Regions from separate parts of the Homo sapiens genome. Here region 2 is linked to region 1. The links come from fine-mapping of genetic effects on gene expression. Tissue or cell type: whole blood. Region 1 holds a variant in brackets; the other region holds the start of a gene. All regions are shown on one strand. Distances are between the middles of the regions.

Region 1 (5,458 bases):
AGTTTATTGCTCCTCCCCGGCAGGGAAAAGGGAGCTAGATTCCAGGAGATGGGGGCAGAGAGACACAGCAGGGCCTGTCCTTTAATTTATTTCCTATTCTTTTCTAAAAGAACACAGGATATTCTCTTTAAAGACACTAATATTAGGAGTGTAGCCAAAAATACTGACAATGATTAATTCTGGGAGCTTCAATTAAAAGTGATTTCCATTTTTTCCCTTTTTACATACTATATATTTTCTGACTTTTCTGTAAATACCATGAATTAGCAGTTAAAAAAGAAGCACCTGAAAAACCCTTTCCTCACTGTACCCAACAATCTTGCATGTGTGCATGTGTGTGTAATGTGCATATGTGTGCATGTGTGTGCATGTGTATATGTGTGTGTAATGTGCATGTGTGCGTGTGTGTAATGTGTGCACATGTGTGTGCATGTGTGTATGTGTGTGTAATGTGCATGTGTGCATGTGTGTGCATGTGTGTAATGTGCGCGTGTGTGTGCATGTGTGTGCCATGTGTGTGCCATGTGTGTATGGGGTAGTTATACTGAGGAGATCCTTTTCCTTTCTTCTCTTCTTGTTTCTTTCCTTCCTCCCTCTCTTCCTTTTTCCCTTAGCACAAATGCATAAAGGCTTACTAGTGTCTTAATAAATCTTCAGAAAGTACAAAGAATGCTTTATTTGATACCACTAAAAATAAGTGCAAGATACAAATTTTTAATTTGAAAAAACATAAGATAGAAAGCACTTTTCTTTGCCTTTTGTGTGTGTGCATGATATACATATATGATATATATACATCTATATCATATACTTATACATATATATTATATACATATATATACATGAAATTCATGAGTAAATTACCAATTCATTGTTGAGAATTGAAGAAGACTAAGACAGAAGTTAAGATTTAATTATCTGTCTGTATTATCATCATTCAAGACACAAAACTGCTGAGTTTTATAATTGTGGGGAAAATCTATTGTCTGTGACAACTCCCTTTACCAGCCGATACTTACATAAAAGTCCAGGAGACACAGTTTATTGCTTTTAAGGAAGACCTTGTCCTTTCCCTCGCAAATGATGTGTGGTGTCTCGAGCTTGTTGGACTTCCTCTGGGCACAGAACATGGAAGATGAGCAGGTATATAATGTGTAGATATTCGTTGGTCCTTTTAAGAGAGGAATATTTGCAGTAAAAATAGAATAATTTATTTAAGATATAAACTCCACTTACATTATAGCTAAAGGCTGCTATAGAACCCATTTCTAAGGTTTTTCTCTATTTACTCTACTCCTCAAGCCCAGGTCGCCCCAGGCCTTCTCCTGCCCTGGTTCCCTGCCTCGGGACATTCTCATTGCTAAGTCCTGAGAGCATCTTCATGAATGCCTCATTAACACTTCCTGGCTATTCATTAGCAAAGTTAGTGTCTTCTCCTGGTTACTTAAAAATCTCTTGGTCAGCCCTGTAACTTGCACACAAGGAGGCATTCAGACAGTGTTGTTTTGAAAGTGCATTTTATAGACACTGTTCTTTAGACTGAAGCTTCCCCCGTCCTCCGCTCCTCTCCGGTTTTCCTCCGCCTGCACTCAACCAGCTCTACATCTCCATCTGTTTTGAATCTTCTCTAATGTCCTTTCTCTGGGCACAGGAACCCAGACACTCTACATTCTGATTTTTTAAAGGGAGTCAAATCAGTCTGCAACAAGACCAAATACAAGTTCAAGGAAACTGAACCATCAACTGAAATTTGCCTGTCAAGCTTATCTTTTTCTGCATTCTTTGAGTATTAGTGAGTAAACAGAAATGGCATAATAAACTATCATTTCAATCCAACTTTGGGCAACCATCAGCTTGAAGGGCTTGGGTTATTGTGAGATAAAGTGAGATGAGACATGGCTAAATTCCAACCGGTGCCTGGCACATGGTGAGCACTCCGATATTAATTCATTGCCTTCGTTTTGTCACGGTGGTCTGGTTACATTTGTAGCTGCTACCGTGTAGCTCTGCACCATGAAGAATCACTAAGAACTTAATGAGCTGTATTTTCTCCAAAGCCATAGGCTTTGTCAACACAATGCTAAACATTGTGACAATTTTTGACTGAATCGAGTTAACTGACTGAATGTTTTGAAGTATTGACACAGCAGCTAAAGGAGTGAGAACGGTAGTCAAGCCAGCTATTTCCTATGATGAAAAGTGGCAAGTATTTCAAAAATAAAACTAGTGTCGAAACACGAGAAGCCAGTGGAAGTCGCAAGTGGCCACAGGGCCTTTGGAAAGCACTCACTGAAGGACCTGGCTCAGGAGCCAGGTGTGGTAACAAAAATCTGAAGATGTCCCTGGTCATCCAACAAGCTAAGCAAAGCTGAAGAACCGGGTGATTCCACCCCTTTCACCGAAGCTTCTGTAATTTACTTCCTTAACAGAAAATGGGAAGTTTCACAAACTCTTGAGAAATGACGAGTGTTGGTTTATTCCTTCCATCTTTTCAGCCGTTGCTTGCCTTTCCTTCTTTCCTCCCATCACTCTGAGGAGGGGTAGGCGCTGTCCAGACGTTAGCGCTGGGTGTTCGAAATCTTTGCAAGGAAAGTTG[G/C]GGCCAGGATTGCACTAATTGGGAAATCTTTGTTTGTCAGTTTAATTTTCAGTGAATTTCCTGAAAGATTAAAAAGATTGTGTTGTACATTACAGATATATATACATTTACAAGTTGTTATATATGTATATTATATGTAACATAATAAATCATATATTTGTATTATCTTTCTGACATATTATACATATATTGTACACAGTATTATATGTAGTATATATAGTGTTGTCACTCAGATGTAGCGATAATACTGTATATATACTGTATCTAACATAGTATATATTATATGTATACTGTGTAATAGTTGTATAATATGTAATAATAATATATGCATAACATTTACATATGTACATATGTTTATAGATATATATATCTGAAGAGAGAGAGAGAATTGAGTGATTTAAAACCCTGAAATGTATTTACTAGCATTACATAAGAGCAAACACACTTGATAGTAACTTGGTAGGTCATTTATGAAAGATTTCTGACCTCAGCATGAGTGAGAAATTCTGTGCTTCTCCAATTACCATTGGAGAATGAATGAAGCCATGACGACAGATCCGTTTCCATCATCACAATCACTGCTGGTTTGAGGATCCTTCCCCAACAAAAGGATCTCCCTTGGCAATGGCCAACTTCATTGACACAACAAACATTTGTCACAACAAAATTTTACCTTTACAAAAGGACTCAGACGGGTTTTTGAAGTTGACGTAACTGGGTTTGGCATCTCTGTTCAAGAGGAGATGGCAGCTCATTGGCTTTCCTCATCAGGGAAGCAAGATCTTTAAAGGGGCCAGTCTTTTCTCCAGTTAACTGGAGAGAGGGTTTTTGACTGCACACATCAGCTAACTCAGGAGAAAAAAAACCTTAGGGTTTTGTTTTGTTTTTTGTTTGTTTGTTTTTCTTTTGTGATAGAGTCTCACTCTGTTGCCCAGACTGGCAAGGTCACAGCTCACTGTAGCCTCCACCTCCCAAGTTCAAGCGATCCTCCCACCTCAGCCTCCCTAGTAGCTGGGACTACAGGTGTGCACCACCACACCCAGCTAATTTTTCTTATTTTTTTGTAGAAACGCGGTCTTCCTATGTTGCCCAGGCTAGTCTCAAGCTCCTGTTCTCAAGTGATCTTCCAGCCTCAGCCTCCCAAAGTGCTGGGATTACAGGCATGAGCTGTTGCACTCGGCCAATGACTATTTTTGATTGTTTTCATGCCAGGATTTTCCTTTCCTTTCCTACATAGCATTGATAAGGATGATCAAATCGAGACTTAGTCTATCTCCTCTTTCTGCGAGTGGCCTTTATTCCTACTGAATCTGTGACATGTTGCCCATGTCAAAGAAAACGTGACTGAGGATATGGATCATGGTTTTCTGTTTTTGGGTCATAATATTTTACAGTGTTTCCAAAGAACCTAGAGGGCATGCATGAAACAATAGGTGCAACCCAGCTAAAATTAACTCCTACTGGCTAGGATAGCTGTAAATGTAAAGCTACAGGTTTTTTAAAGACTTACAGTAGCTCATACATAGCGTGTACATTTATAAGCATTATTGAGTTGGAAGATAATGACAGTCACATGTTGAGAATAGAATATGATATCTTAACGTATGTTCCTCCTCTCTGTGAGTCTCAGGAGTCCAATTATTGAAACTTAAAAATGCAGCACTTTAGTGCATGACTCCAGAACCAGTGGGAATAAGTAACAACAAAAATTTTAATCTATTTACAGGCCTTACAAGATACATAGAATGATATGGAAAAAACATACTTGACACAAACATTTAATTGTATGATTTTGCTTTGAATTTTTGTTTGTAAAAATATACATATTCCTCCTTAAAAATGGCAGCAATGTTATATTGCCTAATGTTAATTTTCTTTCTGCATATTTGTATAATGAGATAAATGTCAAATCTGTTAGAAGTATATGTATTGGACTGGAGAGTTTGGTTTTCTTAGTTAGGATGTTTTTCTTTCTTTCTTTTTTTTGAGACAGAATTTTGCTTGTCACCCAGGCTGGAGTGCAGTGGTGCAGTCTCGGCTTACTGCAACTTCCGTCTCTCAGGTTCAAGTGATTCACCTGCCTCAGCCTCACTAGTAGCTGGGATTACAGGCGCCTGCCACCACACCCAGCTAAGTTTTTTGTATTTTTGGTAGAGACAGGGTTTCACCATGTTGTCCAGGCTGGTCTCAAATTCCTGACCTCAGGTGATCTGCCTGTCTTGGCCTCCCAAAGTGCTGGGATTAGAGGTGTGAGCCACCATGCCCTGCCCATGATGTTTTTCCTACAAGGAACAGAAACCTTGCTTCAAATGATCTTAAACAATAAGGACATTTTGAGGCTCGTGGAACTGGAGGTATTGAGCAATTGGGGCTTTAGGGTCAGCTTAACCAAATGGGTCTGGTTTTGGGGAAATTCTATCAGCTGTATCCTCTTTTTGGTCTTGGTTTAATTCTAAGGTCCCTCATCCTGACAAGCGTGACACCAGTTCCTGGCTCCACAAGGATAATCGTGGAGTGCAAGGAAAGACAGTGTCAGCCTGGATAGCCTTCCCCAGCAGGGCAACAATCCCTTCTGGACCCAGGCACTGATTATCTTTCTGTTTCTCCATCTTTGACGTGTAGGCCTCTGTTCTCATGTTTGTTACCTCGTGATCTCAAGATGGCTCCTGGTCCTCCAGGAGTCACAACTGTGGTAAAAAAAAGAAAAAAAAAAAAAAGAAAAAAAAAAAAGGTCAGGTGCCTAATTGTATCAGGAGATAGGAGAAACTTCCTGGAAGACACATCCTGCAGACTTCTGCTTATGTGCTATTGGCACGTATTGGGTCCTGTGGTCACTGGGACATATACTTCCAGCTGCCTACC
Region 2 (5,458 bases), 310 kb after region 1:
GTGCTGGGATTACAGGCGTGTGCCACTGCGCACCCAGCCAGTGCTTTCTTTTTATTAACTTCTGTCAACTCAGTTTTTCTGTTTAACTATGAAGAATTAGAGGTAGTGAGGGGTTGAATAATTTGCCCTAGAGGACATGGCAGAGCCAGACCTGGACTTTGAGAGTTTAGCCATAAGTGATGTCTCTTGGTCTCATTCTGTATCAAGGCATGCGTAGAGTACTAAAGTAGAAAAGTAAACAACATAAAAGAAGTGCCCAATAAGTAAAAGCTATGAGCAGCTACAGAGATTTTGCCTTTTGGAGCAACCCAAGGTGAAAATATCTATTAAAATACATTAAGCTTGGTTTTTGGAAAAGTCGATAGGGGATTTTGAAACATGATAGCTGTCCATGAGGAACACTTTCTTCATATTCTCCATGTCATATTTTAGAGCTACTGACAAGAAAACTTTGCTGTGATGAAGTGCAGGGCTTAACACTTTTTTAGAGAAAACTTTGCATGAATTTTATATTATAGGTGAGAGGAAAAAAGATGTATTCAATCAAAAGTAATGGTGTCTCTAGCTTGCCAAACGATCCATTAAAGACTTCATCCAGCAAGTGTTGAGTGATGAGTATTTTATTTCCAATTCTATCTTAGTATGAAGAATATTTTATTCACCATTCTATCTCTAACACCAAGCACAGTGCCTGGCATAACAACATTTATTTGTTGAACAAATGAACACAGGTCTCTAGTTAGGTTCTGATCCTAGTGCTTCATTGAATGGCTTTGTAAATGAGACACATAATTTTTCATAGCCTTCATTTTGTCATCTGTGAAAGAGAGGGCTTTAGGTGTATTGATTTCTTAAGGATCCCTTTGGCTTGAAATTCTGATTCTAGAATCTCAAATGGAAAATTTGTGTTCACATTGCACGTGGTGTTTGGTTTTTGTTTTCAAAAGTTTGTGCATTAAATCTCAACAGCTTATTTTCTTGCAGCACAGTGAAGAGTCCCTAAGAACATATTACGTGATGGGAAATGAGAAATAACTGCACTGCAAGCCTGATGAAGGTAATTCACCTTGGGGAATAGGTGTCACCCTGAGTAACACCAGTACTGTCTCCTCAAATATGAGCCAAAAGGTGTGTCTCAGGCAGTTTTGGCAAGATTTTCTCCCTACACTCCTAGAAATTTGCAAGACAAGTTTACAGAAATTACTCCTCCCTATTTCCAAATAAAGATAATGTAATAGATCTATAGAATATTAGAATAGTCTTCTGGCCAGCAGAGGACTTGAGGGAAATAATTGGAATGCACACATTCTTTCCTTTTACGGAACAAATAAAATATACAAGGAATGTCCTTGTGGAATCCACTACACTGGGCCAGCATGATATGGCTGTAATCTTAGAGTTGTGGTTTCCAAGTTCAGCATGCTTGAGGCAATTTCTTTTTGGTATTTTGTTGGTGAACAGGATATGTGATACCATTAATTTAGCCTGTATCAAAAACTAGTTCAAGACCAACAGCTCCTTCTAGAACACAACATTTTAGGAGAATAGAGCAATGTTTCCCTAAGCAGTCGGTCATATTTCACAGAGGAGTGTTAGTTTTCTGGGGTAGTGGGTATGATTAAAAAAAAGATAGGTAGATAGGTAGGTAGGTAGATTAGATTAAATTGGATTAGATTTGATGAGATAAACAGGTTTGTGTTCAGGGGAACACGAGGTTAAGCAAGCCTAAGCAGGTTTTTTGGTTGAAGGTCTTCTCAGAACTTCTAGTATGTCAATATGCCTTGTAGATCTCTAAGTGGCAGGGACAGAGACTGGGGTACAGATTTCCCAAACATATTTGTTTAAGAAACCTGCTTTTTTCCCCCAGAATCTTTTGTGGAACTTTTGCCTCATGGAACACAATTTCAGAAATAATTTATACGTGATGACTGTGTAGAATGTTTTTCTTGTCAGGATTTTCAGTTTAGGTAAGGCCAAGGCATTTTTTTTTTACAGTACATTGAAAACTAGATATGATATCAAGAGAAAAAATTATGCTTGGCTACTTAGAATGACATACTATTTTTAATAAATTTGTATTTTGTATCATCAGTATTACTATTCAGTGTAGGGTATTTTTTATGCCCAATGCTAATGTGCTATGACTTGGTAAAATTAATTTACCCTAGGATTTACATAACCAGATTAATAAATTGTGAGTTGTAGGGAGTCTTGGAATTGCCTGAATTGACATTAAAATATTTGTTTTGAGAAATTTTTTTTTAACCTTGGTTTTACGTAACCAAGGACATACACTACATTATAAATATTGTGATGGTTTATTTTTCCAAACTTTTCTGAATGTGGGGTGCCCATTGAGTAATAATGCAAATCACCAATGACTTTGTAAAAATTGACATGATGAGTAGAACTGCAGAATTCAAAGATGATGATGATGATTTTTGAAACGATGTTTCCAGAATTGTTAAATTATGTATCAACATATGTTAACTGCAACTTCTCATGTTTAATGATGTTTACAATTAATACAATACCATACTCGCCAGTATAATACTAACAGTCATAATTAACTCAGAATAGATTCTTTGAAGTGGTTCAAAGGGCTTTTCATAATAAATAAGTAGCCTCTAATCAGCTAATATAAAGTGGGTATTTTTTAGGATGTGAGAAGTACTGGTATGTCTGATAAAACATATAATTTAGGTTGACAAAATGAGTTTGAATGATCCAGATTCACTACCCCAAGTCAGAAGGAAGTCTGACATTCCAGTGAAAGCTTTATTTAGACAGAGACAAGGAATCTTTGAGATAACAGGCTTTGGACTGTGCTATCTTGAGTGTTAGAGCTGAGTAGTTTTCCCAGAATCTCTAAGTCCTTTTTATGCTCTTTTATGAATGAATAGAATTAGTAAAAGATAAATAAATTTTTTCTTTTGGATTTCTTAACCAGTGGAAAAAATGTTGACTTTAAAAGTTCATAAAATCAAATTTTGCTTAAGAATATGTTATTTCCACTTGTGAGGCCAGCCTGGTAGACCTCTGGGATCCTTTTCTGTTCACTCACACACCACTGAGATAAGGAGTGAAGTGTGGGCTAAATAGGGCTGAGGCTTGGGCAAGGGCATTTCTGCCAGAGCACCAGAGACGTCAGCATCTCAAGGGCACTGTGGTATGGAAAAGGACGCCACATGAGTAAATTTTAAAAATATAAATATTTTAAAGGGTAAAAATGAGGGTCCCTGTATTTGAGGATATAAAAGATGAAACTGAAGAAGAAAAGATAGGGGAAGAAGAAAATGAAGAAGACCAGGTGAGTGAGAAAACACATACTCAGACCAGCGTTTGTTCCTCTAAATTGACAATGAGAAAAATGTTCTTTCTGTTCTTTTCTTTTTTTTCAAATAGGTCTTCTATAAGCCTGTTATTGAAGACTTAAGCATGGAATTGGCCAGAAAATGCACGGAACTCATTAGCGATGTAAGTGGCTGGAGTAATTTTTGTCTTATTTTGCATTGCACCTGTGGTATTATTATGTTATAGAGTCATAGAGCTGTGGGGGAAACCCTGAAATCACCTTTTAAAACACAGTCACTTTCCAGATCATGGAACAAAGTCCTGAAATTTTCAGTGATTTCCCCAAGGTCACCTATACAGAGAATTTCTGCTAGAGCAAGTCTCCTCATTCTTAATCCAGAATCCTGTCCCTTATGAGTTTTGCTGTCACGCTGGCATGAAATCATAAGGCATTGAATTGCAGTATTTATTCCATTTGAGAACCCCCAAAGATTTTAAAATGAATATAATGATGTAATTTGTCTTGGGAGGCCCTCTATCTAAATGAATAGTCATTTTTTTAACATTTTGGGGCCTTCTGAACAATCTAATGAATGGACTTGTCTTCCAGAACAGGAAAATGCATATATATATATATATATATATATATATATATATGCATATAATATTTATTTACAATTCAGGATTTGTTGATTACTGACCTGCTTGCTAAGAACCCTGATATTAGTGCAAGGATATTAGTGCAAGGGGTATTTTTGTTGTGACATTTTTTAGTAACTGGGATTGGTTGATATTACACTTTAAGGGAATCCCAGAATTATTGAATGATTGAACATATAATTTTATGTTAAATATGTAAGCTAGAATTCAAGAAGTACAAGGAAAAATGTTGCTCACCAGGGATGAGAATTTAGATGATCCTCATTAGCGGTTCTAAGAGGATTGCTGGTCCAGAGAAAGGGTAACTCCTGTAAAGTGAATATGTGCCTGTGTCTTCATTTAGAGAGATGAGCACAATACTGGTTGTTTCTGTTGTTGATAATAAGCAAAATGATCAGAATGTTTTGCACGTTTGTTTTCTAACGGAAGTCAGTCCTGGGCAGGAGGGTAGTGGTCTGGCACATCCTCCAAAGTCAACCTGCCTGGGTTGACTCCCCAGTAACCTTGGGAAGGTTATGGAACCTGGCTTGGCTCCATCCCTCAGCTGTAACATTTATAATAAGATTAAATAATGGTAATGCATATAAATGCTGAATAAACTATCTGGAACATTGTGAGTACTCCATAAATGTTAGCTGTTATTAACTACTCTGTCTGTTACTTCCTTTTACATCCATCCAATCACAATTTAGATATGACTGGCTCTTTCTGACAAACCAGAAGGCAAGCACAAAGGATGCTGGTGGAAATCATACCCTTTCCCATATACTTGACATGTGATGTAATTACCCTTTAAATTAAGTATTTCTTTGTGCTATTACTTAATAGTCATTAGCTATTGTATGTGAAAGTTCTCTGTAAATTGCAGTAATAATAAGTGACAATGACAACAACAACAACAATAACACTATTGGCAACAGTTAAGATTTAGTGACTATTGTGTGCCAGGGATTGCAGCTTGCGAGGTAGGCGCTAGGCTTTTTCTCATTTCTGAAGCGAGGAGATAGAGGCACAGAGAGGTTCAGTACCTTGCCTGGGTCACACAGTTAAGCAGAGGCAGTAATAGTTGAACACAGAGGCCTCCCTCTTTACACTGCCAAGTTATCTCTCCCTGTAGATTTCCATGAAATGTTGTTCTTCGCCTTATTATTATTATGTTACTATTATTAGTAGTAATGCTACCAACTAAAACCCTGAGTTCCTAACCTCTTCCAGCTTTGATATATTTTTATTGAAGTGCAATTATAGCTGAGCTAACTTGTGTTACATAAACCATCAGGACTAAAGTGGTAACTGTAGTTAGTAGGTGATTTGGTTGGAGTTGTTTTGGATAAGATTGTCTATCAGTGACTTTAAAACCAACATGTTGTGAGGGGTGGTGGCCTTTATCATTATGCAAAAGCTAAATCCATACATTTCACACCCACGTAGGTAAAATGAAACAGATAGGCATACTTTCTGTTTATTACAGATTTTTGTGGCATGGTAGAATGTACTACTTAAA

The links. PIP is the estimated chance that this variant, and not a neighbour inherited with it, causes the effect.
Region 2: it holds the start of NEBL, and the variant in region 1 is fine-mapped to the expression of NEBL in whole blood (TOPMed, PIP above 0.99). The same link has a PIP of 0.9 or more in T cells, blood mononuclear cells and monocytes.

The regions. Positions count from the first base shown.
Region 1 is chr10:21,209,517-21,214,974 of GRCh38, reverse strand. It overlaps a transcript of NEBL not described here. Among named protein-coding and RNA genes, the nearest start is that of NEBL-AS1, 38 kb to the right of the region's middle. The variant G/C (reference allele first, on the strand shown) is at 2,597.
Region 2 is chr10:20,894,977-20,900,434 of GRCh38, reverse strand. It overlaps NEBL (nebulette), which reads left to right and starts at 3,124. Exons shown (of 28, transcript NM_006393.3): 1 at 3,124-3,310; 2 at 3,406-3,477. The coding sequence starts at 3,230.